3 separate regions of the Homo sapiens genome follow, and regions 1 and 2 are each reported to be linked to region 3. The links are microRNA targets in miRTarBase. Many come from high-throughput screens and were not tested one by one. Region 3 holds a microRNA gene; each other region holds the end of a gene's coding sequence.
What was found. Region 3 holds the annotated microRNA hsa-miR-4423-3p (AUAGGCACCAAAAAGCAACAA, at 3,178-3,198, opposite strand). A microRNA usually pairs through its seed, bases 2 to 8, with sites in the 3' UTR of a target mRNA and lowers its output. Matches are read on the target gene's strand: a 7mer-m8 pairs with bases 2 to 8, a 7mer-A1 pairs with bases 2 to 7 and ends in A, and an 8mer does both.

Region 1: miRTarBase lists EIF3H as a target of hsa-miR-4423-3p. Seed matches in the 3' UTR shown: 7mer-m8 at 1,781-1,787.
Region 2: the mRNA of RHOG is a reported target of hsa-miR-4423-3p. Seed matches in the 3' UTR shown: 7mer-m8 at 975-981.

The regions. Positions count from the first base shown.
Region 1 is chr8:116,640,396-116,645,620 of GRCh38, reverse strand. It overlaps EIF3H (eukaryotic translation initiation factor 3 subunit H), which reads left to right. Exons shown (of 8, transcript NM_003756.3): 8 at 518-3,491. The coding sequence ends at 615. Among named protein-coding and RNA genes, the nearest start is that of EIF3H, 110 kb to the left of the region's middle.
Region 2 is chr11:3,822,826-3,828,050 of GRCh38, reverse strand. It overlaps RHOG (ras homolog family member G), which reads left to right. Exons shown (of 2, transcript NM_001665.4): 2 at 1-1,073. The coding sequence ends at 488. It overlaps PGAP2 (post-GPI attachment to proteins 2), which reads right to left. Exons shown (of 7, transcript NM_014489.4): 4 at 3,916-4,168; 5 at 3,675-3,781; 6 at 2,923-3,031; 7 at 1,680-2,723. The coding sequence ends at 2,593. Among named protein-coding and RNA genes, the nearest start is that of RHOG, 16 kb to the left of the region's middle.
Region 3 is chr1:85,131,855-85,137,039 of GRCh38, reverse strand. It overlaps MIR4423 (microRNA 4423), which reads right to left and starts at 3,246; the gene lies at 3,167-3,246. It overlaps DNAI3 (dynein axonemal intermediate chain 3), which reads right to left. Exons shown (of 23, transcript NM_145172.5): 23 at 3,902-4,185. The coding sequence ends at 4,042.

The DNA of each region.
Region 1 (5,225 bases), not on the chromosome of region 3:
CATAAAAAGCAATGATGGAGCCCTTTCTTCAAGTGAACTCTTTACTCTTACTCTGTCTGGCTCGTAGGAGAAAACTCCTTAACGTTCCCAAAGCACAAACTGAAAACCTACCGTACTTGTTCACATCTGGGTCCAGTGGGTCTGGCTGGTTTGCAGCTCTGTGATTTATTGTTAGTATCTCCTTTCTACCTGTGAAGGCTAGTCAGCGCTGTTTTCTCAGTTGTACAGCATTGGTTTGATCTATTTAGTCAGTCCTTTTGACTGACAGCTATTATGTCCTTAGGGCTGATAAGCTTTTGAGGAGTAGTTTTTCTTTATTCTCCATGTAATTGAGAGTGGACAGTAGCTTATTTTCAAAAGAACTTGTATTTCTTATCCCTTATGGAAAAATAAACTCTGGATTCAAAACAATAAACAGGTGATTCTGTTTTATGCTGATTTTTCTGTTTGACTAGCTTTCTGGATCATTTTACAATTTGTGGAACATTATGGCTCTATCTCTTTCTCAAATGCACAGGCCAGATAAACACTTACTGCCAGAACATCAAGGAGTTCACTGCCCAAAACTTAGGCAAGCTCTTCATGGCCCAGGCTCTTCAAGAATACAACAACTAAGAAAAGGAAGTTTCCAGAAAAGAAGTTAACATGAACTCTTGAAGTCACACCAGGGCAACTCTTGGAAGAAATATATTTGCATATTGAAAAGCACAGAGGATTTCTTTAGTGTCATTGCCGATTTTGGCTATAACAGTGTCTTTCTAGCCATAATAAAATAAAACAAAATCTTGACTGCTTGCTCATTTGATTTTAGATGTATTTTCTCTGGCTTACTTTTGTTTGCTTATACTTGTTTATTTCTAAAAGCTAAAACAAGCCCTGACCGGAAGTTTCACCAGGCAGAAACCTATAGGCTCCACCACTTTTGCTGCCTCTCAGGTGCCACCTTTCAACCCACTTCTCCCAACTACTTATCCCAGCTCCTGACCCCGAGGCCCTGGCATCTACTGTGAATATTTTTTTTTTGAATTTTTATACTTCGCTGCTCCCAAATGAGCACCCCGAGAGAAGTCCAGGCTTCATGTACTTGCCCAGGAATTCCTTGTCCCCGGACCCGGAATCACTTGGCCTAATTCCGGTCAGTCTGCCTTTTCATTTCTGCAGGTGATGGTCAACCAGTCCCCGTACTCATAGGCCATGGGACACAAGATTATTATTATCATCATTATTTTTAAAGACAGAGTCTCACTTTGTTGCCCAGGCTGGAGTGTAGTGGCACAATCTCAGCTCGCTGCAACCTCCACCTTCTGAGTTCAAGCGATTCTCCCACCTCAGCCTCCCAAGTAGCTGGGACTACAGGCGTGTGCCATCACGCCTGGCTAATTTTTGTATTTTTAGTAGAGATGGGGTTTCACCATGTTGGCCAGGCTGGTCTGCATCTCCTGACCTCAAGTGATTCACCTGCTTCTGTCTCCCAAAGTGCTGGGAATACAGGCATGAGCCACCACTCCTGGACAGGCCACAGAAATTTTAAAGAAAAGAATCATGCCACCACAAGTAAACTTCATTTTGTTTATATTATTTAGGACTTCACATTTGTCTTCCGAAACCATGAAGTATAATTCTGCTAACAGCAAGTGTTGTGAATGAGGAATTAGGAATTAGGAGAATGGTAGTACATTGGGAAAAACATATTTTAGTAATTTTTATATTTTAAAGATAATCACAGATTTTGCTGTTTGTGCATCACCAAAATCAGTGAGATCTGCCAGCTGGTGGGGGTGTGCCTATGAGAATTTTTGATTATGATCCCCTAGGAGGGTTATCAAAAAAGGAGATGGGTGAAAGATCAGGAGAGTCGAGAAATTCATTTTTTGGACAACATTGTTTTGAAGGCACTACTGGGGCTCTGGGATCAGGCAGCCAGATTGAAACCTGGCTCCTCCTTTTCCTAAGTTATTTAACCTCCCTGTGCCTCACTTTTTGTCAACCAGATAAGATAAGAAATGAGAGCAGGTCTGTTACCTCACAAGGTGGCTGTGAGTGTTGAAGACGTTTGTTGGGGGTTTGGGTGAAGCATGCAAACTCTGGTTGGTATGTGGCAGCCACTCAGCCTGTATTTATGATGAGGGAGGCATTCTAGGCACCCCTTCCAGGATGTTGGGTTGTTGGCTGGGTTTTACTTTAAAAAGCTCAGGGCCTAGAACATTCTAGAATCCAAGTACTTGCTCACATATATAATTATTTCTTTAGGATAATCTTTGATATAGACTTACGAGTCAAAGGGTATGTAAAATGTCAGCCCTTTTACCTGTATTGCCAAATTGCCTTCAAAAGTTTCTGCTGTTTTGCCCTCCTACCCATAGTGATAACCTTAAATTGGAGTCAACACAAATTTGAGTGTGACTGTGTTAGACAGAAGGGATATATTAACAGGTAAAACTGGCCATGGCCCCTGCCCTTGTGGAGTATATGCTCTGTTGGTTCATTTCCTCTGCATTCTAATTTTCTAGACTTGGGATCTTATTGTGGAGTTAAACAAAGCACCCTTAAAGTAGCAAGCGAGCAAAATAAAAGCAAGGAAAATCAGTTGGAACATAACTTATGTATTTTTTAGGATTAAGAGTAATTTAACTGAGTCAATTCAATATGTTTTTAAAGGTGTGATTCTTAAATTCTTTATGATTGTTTAGATTTCTATATCTTGGTAACATGAATACACACTTAATGAAAGATTTCAGTAATTTTTGATTTGGGAATTAATCATAGTGGGAAAAACTGTTTAGGAAAACATGTCAGTGGAAATTAACTCGCCACAGTATGTAGTGTTAGGGAATAGCTTCTGTTCGGCATTTGATTTGAGTGCTGTATTCTGACATTTTTCAGGAACAAATACATGTGATTCATCTTCTATAAATATTTGCAGTTTCTTCAAGTTGAAATGAGAAAAGCTCGTAAATTGAGCACCAGGTCTAATAAATCATTCACTTACCCAAGAACAGAAAGACAGGAAAAGCTAGCATGTTAATCTAATGAAAAAATCGAATGTTAAAAAACCAAGAAAGTAGAAGATATTTGACATTAACTTTCTAATCATTGATAATAATCTAATAATCATAACATTATTCTTAAAACCTGAAAGAATGGATTCCTGCTCCCAATGTGTTTTTAATATCAACTTAAACTAAAATAATTTTTTTACCTATTTTTGGAAGCTTGGAAATTGAGATGTAGTTGTCTAATGTTAACCTAATTAAGAGAGCTTGGTGTGATTTCTCATATACAGCATCTAAATATTTAAGTTTTAATGTCTTCTAAAATATTATTACATTCTTCATACTATAGTTTTTTAACATCCTTTAGAAAACTTGTATCAGCTTCACTTTCAAACCATGCTGGCATCGAACTCAGGTGTAGTGGTATCAGAATGTTATGAAATAATTTTTTATTTTCATTATAAACTCCATTTTTACAATAAACACTTCTCAACCAAATTAAGTATGTAATACACTGTCATTTTAAAAAAAAATCTCACTGGGCATCTTTTTCTATGCTAGCTCTGTATTTTTAAAAATTCTCTCTTTTTTTTTTCTAATTTAAGAAGTATTTATCAGATACCTACTATGTCAAGCACTCTTGATGTTCCAAAGCAGACAGGACACAGATTCTGCCTCTGAGCTTATTAATCAGCATATGACCCAAGAAGGGAACATGAAGTCCTACAAGCTGATAGAGTATGAAGTCATAAGTGCCTTGGAGAGTGCTTTGGGCCATGTTAACAGAGGATCCTTCTGCAATTGGGTTGTACAGAAGGGGTGACAGTGGTTAATAGTCATTGTGGTAAAAGGATAAAGATCTGAGTCTATTATTGAAAAGTGGTGACTCCCAAGTTGGAGTCAGAACCTCTTTGGATGGATTGGAAGAGGGGTTCATTTGACTCCAAATTACTGGAGACAGGGAGTGAGAAATAGGAAGCCAGAACTATTGGGAAATTACAGTTTGCTGGAGCAAACTGCTGTGGCCTAGTACTTACTGCCTTGAGACTTCATTTTATATAAATAGACACTTCCCTATAATGCACCTTGAGCCTGTTTGGCTCCACAGCTACTGGCAGAACCTGAAATGGCTTTGCATAAGCCTCAATGGTGATTTTAGGGATATAGTCCGGGTATGCAAGGAATGGTTTCCAAGTGCTATACCCCTGCTCCAATGTGGGGAGTTTGGGCCATTCTGTAGGAGTTCGGTGTTTCCCAGACATTTCTTTGTCTGAGTACTTGCATTCTTATTCTTACAGGCTGTTAAGCCCTCGCGTAGTTGCCATGTGATGAGTTTATTAAAGTCAAAATTTGATTTCTACACCATAGAATACCACTCTGCCATAAAAAAGAATGAAATAATGACTTTTACAACAACTCGGATGGATCTGGAGGCCATTATTCTAAGTGAAGCTGTGGGCACACAGAGTATAATGAACTTTGGAGACTCAGAAGGGAAGAGAGTAAGAGGGGCATGAGGGATAAAAACTGAATATTGGGTATAATGTACACTACTCAGGTGAAGGATGCACTAAGATGTCAGACTTCACTATACAGATTATCCATGTCACTAAAAACCCCTTGTACCCCCAAAAGCTATTGACATTTTTTTTTAAAGGCTAGCCTGGGTAGCATAGTGAAGACTCCATCTCTATACTTTTTTTTTTTTTTTTGAGAAAGAGTCTCACTCGGTCACCCAGGCTGGAGTGTAGTGGGCACAATTACCGCTCACTGCAGCCTCAACCTCCCGGGCTCAGGTGATCCACCTCTGCCTCCCGAATAGCTGGAACCCTAGGCACATACCATCACACCTGGCTAATTTTTTTTGTAGAAACGGAGTTTAGCCTTGTTGTCCTGGCTGGTTTGGCTCCTGTCTTGGCTTCCTAAGGAGCTGGGATTACAGATGTGAGCCACTGCACCTGTCCTTAAAAAATGTTTGATTCCATGAGATTAGATGTTGAGGCCATTTGCATTTTTTTATGAGTTAGGCAACCAATTTTCAATCTTCATTGACTCAATGGCAAGCAGTCTGCTACAGATTGAATACATCCTCAGAGTCTTACTAACTTGAGTATTCCCTGGAACCATCATGAGTTGAGAGGATAGGAGATGGAGTGCTGAATTCATGCTTATTCTAGGACTTGCTTGAAGTCTTTTTAATAGGATTCAGGTACATGTTTGCTTGCTTTTCCT
Region 2 (5,225 bases), not on the chromosome of region 3:
AAGAGTACATCCCCACCGTGTTCGACAATTACAGCGCGCAGAGCGCAGTTGACGGGCGCACAGTGAACCTGAACCTGTGGGACACTGCGGGCCAGGAGGAGTATGACCGCCTCCGTACACTCTCCTACCCTCAGACCAACGTTTTCGTCATCTGTTTCTCCATTGCCAGTCCGCCGTCCTATGAGAACGTGCGGCACAAGTGGCATCCAGAGGTGTGCCACCACTGCCCTGATGTGCCCATCCTGCTGGTGGGCACCAAGAAGGACCTGAGAGCCCAGCCTGACACCCTACGGCGCCTCAAGGAGCAGGGCCAGGCGCCCATCACACCGCAGCAGGGCCAGGCACTGGCCAAGCAGATCCACGCTGTGCGCTACCTCGAATGCTCAGCCCTGCAACAGGATGGTGTCAAGGAAGTGTTCGCCGAGGCTGTCCGGGCTGTGCTCAACCCCACGCCGATCAAGCGTGGGCGGTCCTGCATCCTCTTGTGACCCTGGCACTTGGCTTGGAGGCTGCCCCTGCCCTCCCCCCACCAGTTGTGCCTTGGTGCCTTGTCCGCCTCAGCTGTGCCTTAAGGACTAATTCTGGCACCCCTTTCCAGGGGGTTCCCTGAATGCCTTTTTCTCTGAGTGCCTTTTTCTCCTTAAGGAGGCCTGCAGAGAAAGGGGCTTTGGGCTCTGCCCCCCTCTGCTTGGGAACACTGGGTATTCTCATGAGCTCATCCAAGCCAAGGTTGGACCCCTCCCCAAGAGGCCAACCCAGTGCCCCCTCCCATTTTCCGCTACTGACCAGTTCATCCAGCTTTCCACACAGTTGTTGCTGCCTATTGTGGTGCCGCCTCAGGTTAGGGGCTCTCAGCCATCTCTAACCTCTGCCCTCGCTGCTCTTGGAATTGCGCCCCCAAGATGCTCTCTCCCTTCTCCAATGAGGGAGCCACAGAATCCTGAGAAGGTGAATGTGCCCTAACCTGCTCCTCTGTGCCTAGGCCTTACGCATTTGCTGACTGACTCAGCCCCCATGCTTCTGGGGACCTTTCCTACCCCCATCAGCATCAATAAAACCTCCTGTCTCCAGTGGCCCCGGCTCCTCCCTGTGTGCTGGGCATTAGCGGGTGGGCATGGGCTAGGGCTCCCCAGAGACTGGGAGCCTTTTGTTTCTTCTAGTAGACAATAGGCTTCATTGTGGTCCCCTCACCCCTCAATTTCCCTAACAAAGCTCTAGGCTCCCTTGGAGGGGGCAGTCTTGCTCTGGGGCCCAGTCACAGATGCTGTAGTGGACTCAGACACAAAACCTGAGGAAAGACTTCTTGATCTTAGGGCTCAGAAAGGGAGAGGTTCAGAGCCATTAGTCTAAAGGCAGATGCTCCCACAGTCATGCATGTGACAGCTGTACCTCACATCCCCAAGAGGACAGCTTTAACAACAAGAGTTGGAATTTGAACCCAGGTCTCTGTCTCAACTGAAGACTTCCAGGTACCCTAGCTTGCAGTCCTAGAATCATTACAGATAGCTCACTCACTCCTGCTCACCAAAATAAAGGCTTAGACCAGCTTTAGGAGACTCCAGACCTAAGGGGGACTGGGGGGTTCTGCTAGGAATCATACCCTGCCGTGGACTTACTCCCTCCCCATTCTTGAGCCTGTTTCTCTCCCAGTTCCTATCAAACAAGATGAGCCCCAAGACTAGCAAGCCTAGGCAACTGTTGGCCCAAAAAAAAAATTTATTTTCCTTTCAAATAAAATGTACAACCAAAATTTAGGGTTTGGAGCAGTAGGGAAGACAGGAGATACCAGGGAGCCCATTTTACAGTAGAGATCTGCATCTGACCCCTCTATCCCATACCTTTGCAAAGGAGGGGAGGGGTCTACAAGCCAGAACTTTCAGAAGAGAAGAAAATACATGCTGTGCTGGTGCTGTTTCTGGAGCAGGTCATCCTTTAGGTATAGAACACCACCTCCACCCGATGACATCAGAACCACTGACTGGTAGAGTCCTTGGAAATCATACAGTCCACCCATCCCCCGCCAGACACATGGACACACCGAGGCTCAGATGGGGAAGGGTACATACCCTAGGGCACACACCAAATCAAAAAGGTGAAGTCAGGACTAGAACACCTGAGCAACTTTAGCAGGGGACTGTGGCCACAGGCCTGGATGTGCACAGTAGATCATGAAATACATTAGTCCTATGAATGACCCCCGTGCAGAGAAATGGCTGTGGTTGTCAGGGAGCAGCCACTGCTCAGGGGCTCCTGACCTCAGTGAAAGGTGACTGTGTAAAGGCCAGAAACTGGATGGTGGTCATGAACCTCAGGACGTTTTTTTTTTTAGCACCAAATGGTGGAGCTCTCTGCCAGCTCAGCTTCTTGGGGCCTCTCAGGTAAAGGTGATGTTTGAGGACCCCACGCCCATATGAGGGGTGGAGAGGAGAAGCCAGCAGCACTGGGGTGAGCCTTGGCCTACACCCTTCCTTCTTACCCTTCCCCCATCTTCAGTAAGGCCAAGAGAGGATGTGGGGTGGGGAAGGCCAGAATGGTATCGTGTTTCTTGTTTCTGGGCAGTGGGCTGCGTCCTCCCAAGCAGGACTGAAGGGTTCAGAATCGCTTTTCCTCAGGCTGAGAGGTTATGAGCAGCTCCTTGTTCCCGAAGTCCCACCAGGCCGTCATGTGGAACGCCATGTTGGTTAAGACAACAGTGTACTCCAGGATGGCAAAGATGGTGTACACTGTTGTGAGGACACAAGGAACAGGACATGGTGAACTTCCAGCTACCCGCTCAGAGGCCTCTTGATAAATCACACCACCATTGGTCTGCCACAGAGAACACAATGGCAGCCAGTCCCCAAGACCATTGCCCATTATCAAAAACATCATTGCTGCCCCGCAGCCACTCATGACCGCCTGTGGATCCTATCCTGGCCTCACCTCCAGCCTCACAATACATGTTGTGCCGAAAGTAGACAGCCAGCGCCGAGAAGAAGGAGATGAAGTTGATGATGAAGAGCCGCTGTTTCCAGCTGTAGGACTTGCGATCCTAGGGAATGGGCTGTCTGATCACTCTGCAGCTTGCTGGGTATGAGAGCGTGGGCTCCCCTCTCAGCCCTAACTCCTAAGGGCTGGGCCTTATCTCCCTTGGCTCCCACTAGCGGTCATGGAAGGGAGCACAGGCAGGGGCAGCAAGAATGACGACTATGTGTTCACGTCCCTGCCTCTGGGGGAGTGATGGGCCGAGGAGCAGTGGTATTCCTGCCGCTTCCACTTCAGGGGGATGGAGTATGAAAGTTACATGGAGTCACCCACCAACCCCACCTCCAAATACTGTGGGGGAAAAGAAACCCATGTACATGGGTGGGGCGCTGGAATTATGACAGACCAGTCCTCTGACACTGTTCCTAACTCACTGCCGCCTAGATGCGACTCCTCATTCTATCCCCATTTGCAGCCTCCATCTCTTCTATTCTCCAGTCTCCCACACTACCCAAACACAGTGCTATAGTCCTAGATTCTGACCAACCACCCTCAGTTTGTTCCCAAGCCCCAGCCCCAACCCCAGCACCCCTCTGCCAGGGTTCCCATTAGAACTCAGTTCCCACCTCACCATTACCCGAATCCTGAGGACAGATGTCCTTGATTTTCTTCTGGGCTGCCTTGGAGCCCCCGCTAGGGATAGACCGTACCTCCTGACTTACTGTGTGCTTCTTGGTCAACCGCCAGAGAATGCAGGTGAGGAGCATGTGCCCGAGGGATGAGGCAATGAACACAATGAAAGCATTTTCGTGGATGGCTGGAGGGAAAGAGGATTGGGAGCCACATTGCAGGGAGTGCCCACACCACGAAGTAGGAAGGTCCGAATGTGGTAGGGGCAGGCCCGTCCCCTCAGGGAACACTTCCCCACTCCTCCCTCATCCAGGCACCCACTGAAGTCCTCGGAGGAGGAGACATAAGTGAGCACTAGCAACGCGAGGTTCTCCACGACATTGAGGCCGAAGTTGAGGCGGCAGAGCGGGCGATAGCAGGAACACGGGGAGGTGCAGCTGAGGTAGTGGTTCCAGTAGGCGAAGGCCACCAAGAAGCGAGGCGCCGAGTGCAGGCCGATGCAGAAACGCCACACGTAGCGCTGGGGCACCTCCCCGCCGATGGCTGAGCTCACCGAGGGCAGGTAATTGGGCACCTAGAGAGTTGTGACCTGTCTGGGCATCTGCCTCTGCCAGCCCCGCCCATGTGGAGAACCTTCTCTCCATCTGACAAAATCACTCTTGCCTCTGCTCCAGCCCCTCCCCTTCCAAGAAGTCCTCCTTCAGATGTCCCCATACCTCTCCCAAAAGACCTCTCCTTCCAGGTCCTAGGCCCAAAGTGCTGGATTCTCATTCCCCAGCTATCCTGGGATTTGTGCAGCAGCATGGTGGCACCTTCTCCATCTCCCCCGCAGACTGGAACCTGCCTGTGTTTGGTCAATGTGTAGATGGGTTCAGATGCTCTACACCCATAGCTCAGAGCTGTGCCTCCACTAAGACCCTGGGTGAGTTCCAAGGCCTCAGATTCAGTCCAGAGGACAGGGATGAGTCACAGACCATCTGAGCTTCCTTAGAACAGTGCTGGATTCACTGCTCAGCTAAGATGTTCCTCAGTCTGCTCCCAGCGCCACTCACTCCTCTAGGCAGGTGTGCCAAGGTGGTAGAATGGCACCCCTGCTCTGATCATGATTAACAAAGTGGGTGGGCTGGGCACGATGGCTCACATCTGTAATCCCAGCACTTTGGGAGGCCGAGGTGGGTGGATCACCCGAGGTCAGGAGTTAAAGACCAGCCTGGCCAACATGGCAAAACTCTGTCCCTACTTAAAAAAAAAAAATTAGCCAGGCGTGGTGGCCAGCGCCCGTAGTCCCAGCTACTCAGGAGGCTGATCAGAAGAACTGTGTGAACCTGGGAAGCGGAGCTTGCAGTGAGCCGAGATTGTGCCACTGCACTCCAGCTTGGGCAACAGAGTGAGACTCTGTCTCAAAAAAAAAAAAAAAAAAAAAAAAAAAAAAGAAAAGAAAAAAGAAAGTGGGTGCTCCTAACCTGGGGTAGTCTAAGGAAATGACCATGTTCTTGTGCATCTCCACCATCCATCTTAATGCCTGGAACTCCTATTGAAGCTTCAGTCCTTAAGGAAAAAGGAGAAGATAATACACAGCTGCAGGGACTGGTGTCTTGCTTGTTTGAGAGGTGAAAGGATGGGGGATGACT
Region 3 (5,185 bases):
CACTACACTGTAGACCAGACCAAATGACTTAAGGTCAGAAGATCAGATCGACTCACAATGGGTGGTAGGGGAAAGGGTTGGAGCTGTGGGGATTGGAAGGAGGCATACCAGTTAATTCTATTTGCATTCACACCTGATATTCCTACATCTTCAGTACAGGTGGTTAGCATCCTCGCTTGAGGCTCAGCTGTGTTCTTTACTGGGATTCAGCATGCCTGGCCTTGTCTGCCAAATGGAAGTTCTGGGCCAAACAAAAGGACCTTAGCTTAAGGGGTTGAAGAGCCTCAGAGAAAACTCATCCCAGAGAAGGAAGAGACATCACTATGAGTTTGTCTGTTTCAAAGTCTTAGTGTCCAAGAGAGGTATCATGAATAATTAAACCACGCTGAGTGGTCTGAGATGAATCGTATCATCTTCTGTCCTTTCCTCTTTTCTTCCATAGGTACCAGACCTGCATGAGCTCTGAAGGCTCTGCCTTGCTTCTTGCACCTCTGCTACTGCCTTGGTGTTTGCTTCTCGCTGAACTTGAACTAACCCAGAAGCATTGTCCCAGCACCTTCCCCCACGTTACAGGCCATTAGGCAGCTCTAGCATTTTGAGAGAAGGGATCCCTGAGTGCCTGGTGGTTGTGGGCTTGAACATATGTGACTCCATCTTCATCCCAGTGGCCACTGGACACACTTGGGGGCACTCTGCAGAAGGCTAGCATACCTGAGAAGCAAGTGGGCCAAGGTCCCATGAAACCTGGGCTATGGCTGCTTATGTGTCCTCTCGGTGGCCACAGGTGATGAGACTCAGGAAAACTGAGGTTATAAACACACAATGAAAACACCACACCAGGTCTGGGAGCAGTAGCTCATGCCTGTAATCCCAGCACTTTGGGAAGCCGAGGCAGGTGGATCACTTGAGGTCAGGAGTTCAAGATCTGCCTGGCCAACATGTGAAACCCTGTCTCTGCTAAAAATACAAAAATTAGCTGGGAATAGTGGCACATGCCTGTAATACCAGCTACTCAGGAGGCTGAGGCAGGGGAATCACTTGAACCTGGGAGGTAGAGGTTGCAGTGAGCCAACAACGAGCCACTGCACTCCAGCCTGGGCAACAGAGTGAGACTCTATCTCAAAAAAAAAAAAAAAAAAGAAAAAAGAAAAAGAATAAAGACAAAAATCACACTGAACTAATAATAACTGCTATCATAACCATAAGGAGCCCCATGTTTAGTTTCTATAGCAAGAATGTTACAACCATTTTGTATTTGTAAATCAGGCAAAACATATTTACTGCTTGCCGTATGCTAGCCACTATACTAAGCTTTATATTTGCTAACCCTAAGGCAGACACTTATTCAATATCCATTACTCCAGTCCTTTATGCTAACAACACCCTGCTTTTATTTGAGACAACAATGTGCTCAGCCTCCAGTCATGGTTTATGACACTCAGTTATGACACACCTGTTCTCTGTAGTCCCAGCTTCTTTTCATTGAAGAGAGGGAGACTGGGTTATGGAACACACTTCTAGAAGACTACAGGTGAAACCCCTCACCTCTTTCAGGCCTTGTTCAAGTGTCACCTTCCCTGACCATCCTGTTTAAAATGGTAGACCCTGGCACATAGAAGGCATTCAATATATTTTTTTAAAGTCAGGTGTGGTGGTATGTGTCTGTAGTCCTAGCTACTCAGGAGCCTGAGGCAAGAGGATTGCTTAAGCCCAACAGCTTGAGGCTGCAGTGAGCTATGATTGCATCACTGCACTCCAGCCTGTGCAACTGAGTGAGGCCCTGTCTTTAAAAACAAACAAACCATTTTTTAGAGTGAACTCGTGAAAATAAAATTAGAAAAATCTCTGGAGAAAGTACTGAACAGCAAGCACAGATGCCCAGGGAGAGGAAGATGCCTGGCATGTTTGGTGAACAGGAGGCCAGCATGACTGGGATGGGTGTGATGGAGGGGAGAGGAAGGAGGGATGGGACCAGGTGACAGTGGAAGGCCTGCCTGTACAAGGGCTTGCAGGGCACAGACAGGCATTGGGAACATACTCTGAGTGATCATACTATGAGGTTGAGGAAGGATTCTGGGCAGAAGGATGACAGCATCTGACAGCATCCATTTAAAACTACCATCTGGCTGTGGCTGAAAGTGACTGAAAATGACAACATAGAAACAGGGAGAACAGGAGGCTGCTGCAAAATCCAAGCTGATGATGATGCAGCTTGGACCATGGTGGTAGCAGTGAGGGAGAAGAGAAGCGATCAGGTTTCACATGCATACTGAACGTGTAGTCAACAGGACTTGCTGACAGATTGGATGTGGATTGTGAAAGAAAGGAGATGAAGGATGACCTTAAGGCTTTTGCCCCAAGCAGCATCATGGCTGGGAGGACTGCTGGAGGAATGGTTTTTGAAGGGAAACATCAAGCACTCAATTTTGGACATGTTTAAGTTTGAGATGCCTATTAAACATCCAAGTGGAGATACAAAAGGTCAAATAGATACACATCTCTTGATTTTAGAGAGAAGGCCAGGTCAGGGACAGAGGTAGTATCTAAAGCCTTGAGAGTGGATGCATGCACCTAGAAAGTGAGTGCAGAAAAAAGAAAGAATAAAAGAAGTTCAAGTGTAAGGATGAGCCCTGGGATATTTCAATCATGATGACAATAATATGTGCCAGGCACAGGCCCCTTATCTGCAGGGGCTCATTTGCCCCTTACATAAATGCTGCAAGTTAAGTTCTCTCAACCTGACTTGATGGAAGGGGAATCTGTTTCACAGAGCTGGGTCATCTGTTCAAGGGCACACAGGTGGTTAAGAGCTAAAATCTATCCGACAAAGTTTTCTTTCCTCTAGCAATCTAACTTATAAACCTTGGTATTATCCTTTGTCTTCCCTTCCCCATCCAACCAGCCTTTGATTTCTATCTTCACATTAAGCTTTAGTACAGGGCATCCTAATCCTTTGCCCTGAACAATTCCTCCTGCCTCCTAATAGGATTTCTTGCCATGAGACTCTCCCCTGCTCTAGTTCATTCCTTGTTTCCTAAAAATAAAGCTGATTGGGTCAACTTCCTGTTTAGACCTTCCATTCATTCCCCATAAATTCTAATCCAGCTCCTTAGCTTGGTAAACAGGAGCCTTCACAATCTGGCTCCAAGCTCTTTTGTGTCTCAGTTTCACATACTGTTGTTGCTTTTTGGTGCCTATGCTAGGCTTAAACAGCATGGGAACAAAAAGGCAACTGCAGTACATGATGTCAGGCACCTGATGGTGTGAGCTGTGTCTTGTTCCACATCTCAGGGGAAAGCTTTCTGCTTGTCACCATGAAGTACCATGTTTGGTGTAGTATTGTTTTACACGCCCTTCATCACATTACAGGAATTCTTTCTGTAGATGCCAAGAATGTATCATTATTATCATGAATTGATGTCAACTTTTATGAAATGTTTTTCTGCATCGACTTGGCATCATAATTTCTCTCTTTTGATTAATCACTGATTTATTTTCTACTCTTAAATTAACCTTATCTTCCTTGGATAAACCCAACTTTGTCTTCATGTGTTAACCTCTTTAAAATATATATATATATATATTTCTGGATTTGATTTGCTAATATTTTGTTTAGCACATGGCCCTACAGTTTGTACAGTGGCCAAGGGGAAGCACTTTTTTTGGAAAGGTGGCCAAAAGCAAGCTGATAAGTAGGAGCAGTTTGATTTCCCCTTCTGCCTGGAATGAGGGCCTCTGTGTGGACAGCAAGGATTGGGATGGAAGGGACATCCAAAGTTCTCTATTATTATAGGAAAATACAAATTTTGTTATTGAAAACATTCATTAAAAAAGAACACTTTCATATTCAGTACAAAATTTGGTACATACATGGTACAAAAACTGAAATAGATCTCATTGCTAAAATTCAAAAGTTTTAATAGCAGGGAAATAAAAGTCTATAAATGAGCCTATATATATATATGTTCAGCATGCCAGTTCACCTGACATAAAAATAAATAGAGGGAAGAAGTCCCCAAAACACCCCTTCAGGAAGCTTTTTTACATCACCTCCATGTATGACCCCTTCTCTGTGACTTTGATTAGGCCAAGGTTGATAAGAACAGTCTTTTCCAGTTCCAGATAACTCTCATAGTCCATTTTTAATTCAGCCTGCATTTGTTCTTTTGACTTCTGATATGTTTTCTGGGGGGGGAAGAAAAACAAGACATCCCTATAAAACACTGATATCTAAAAATACCAAAGGATGAGAAGGGGCTGTTTGTGAATAGTTGACCTGGCTGCTGTTTTCTGGAAAGGGCTGGATGGAGGGCAGGAAGGCAGGAGGGCAGGTGGGCAGGAGGCAGTCAGATGTGCTGGGAAAGGAGGGAGTGGGGGGAAACATGGTCCCCAACCACTGTCTCTCAAAAAAAAGTCCCTTTTTCCGGCCTTCTTCCCTATAACTCTTGTTTCCCTTATGTAGACTGGAGGGTGACTAATAGCCTAGAGGTTGCAGAATTCTTTTGAAATCCCCCTCTTCTGAGTCCATATGGATGGCATAGCTTGTGGATCACACGGCAATGACTACTGTCCCAGGCTGAGTCTCCAGCTGAAATTCTGGTTAGGAAAATTCCCATTTCATATGCAACTAGAGCAGTGATTATTATTGTCCATTGAGGAGTGAGCTGTTTCCAGATTTTATGTTTGCAAAGAGACAGGTGCATGATTTTCCTGAAATCTGTGTTGAACTGTACAGCCTCAACCTGGCACCTGGTGAGCACTCACACAGGCCAGCCTTGCTGGACGAACATGTGAACACTTTCTATGTGCCAGTTATTGGCTAAGTGCTGTAAATATTTTAACTCATTTAAGCTCCATTGCAATCTTCTGAGGTTGTTACTGTTGCCATTTCCCCCTTTATCAGCCGTTGCTTAGAAGGAGACATTTCTGACTAACATTAGTTGTTTTTCCTTAGTGACTTTTTTTATGTTCTCAATGTAACAGAGGAACCCTTTCAAATTCATTCACATACCCACAATCTATTCATAGTTGCAGAGAAAATTTGAGAAGTGGTGGCTTTACTTAAAAGAGGGCACCATATCAAATGGAAATAAAGTTACAAGAAGTTGGGAACGTTTTGGAAATTGAAAAGTATAATACAATTTAAGATATTATTATTATAATATTCAGGTGTTTAAAAAGTATT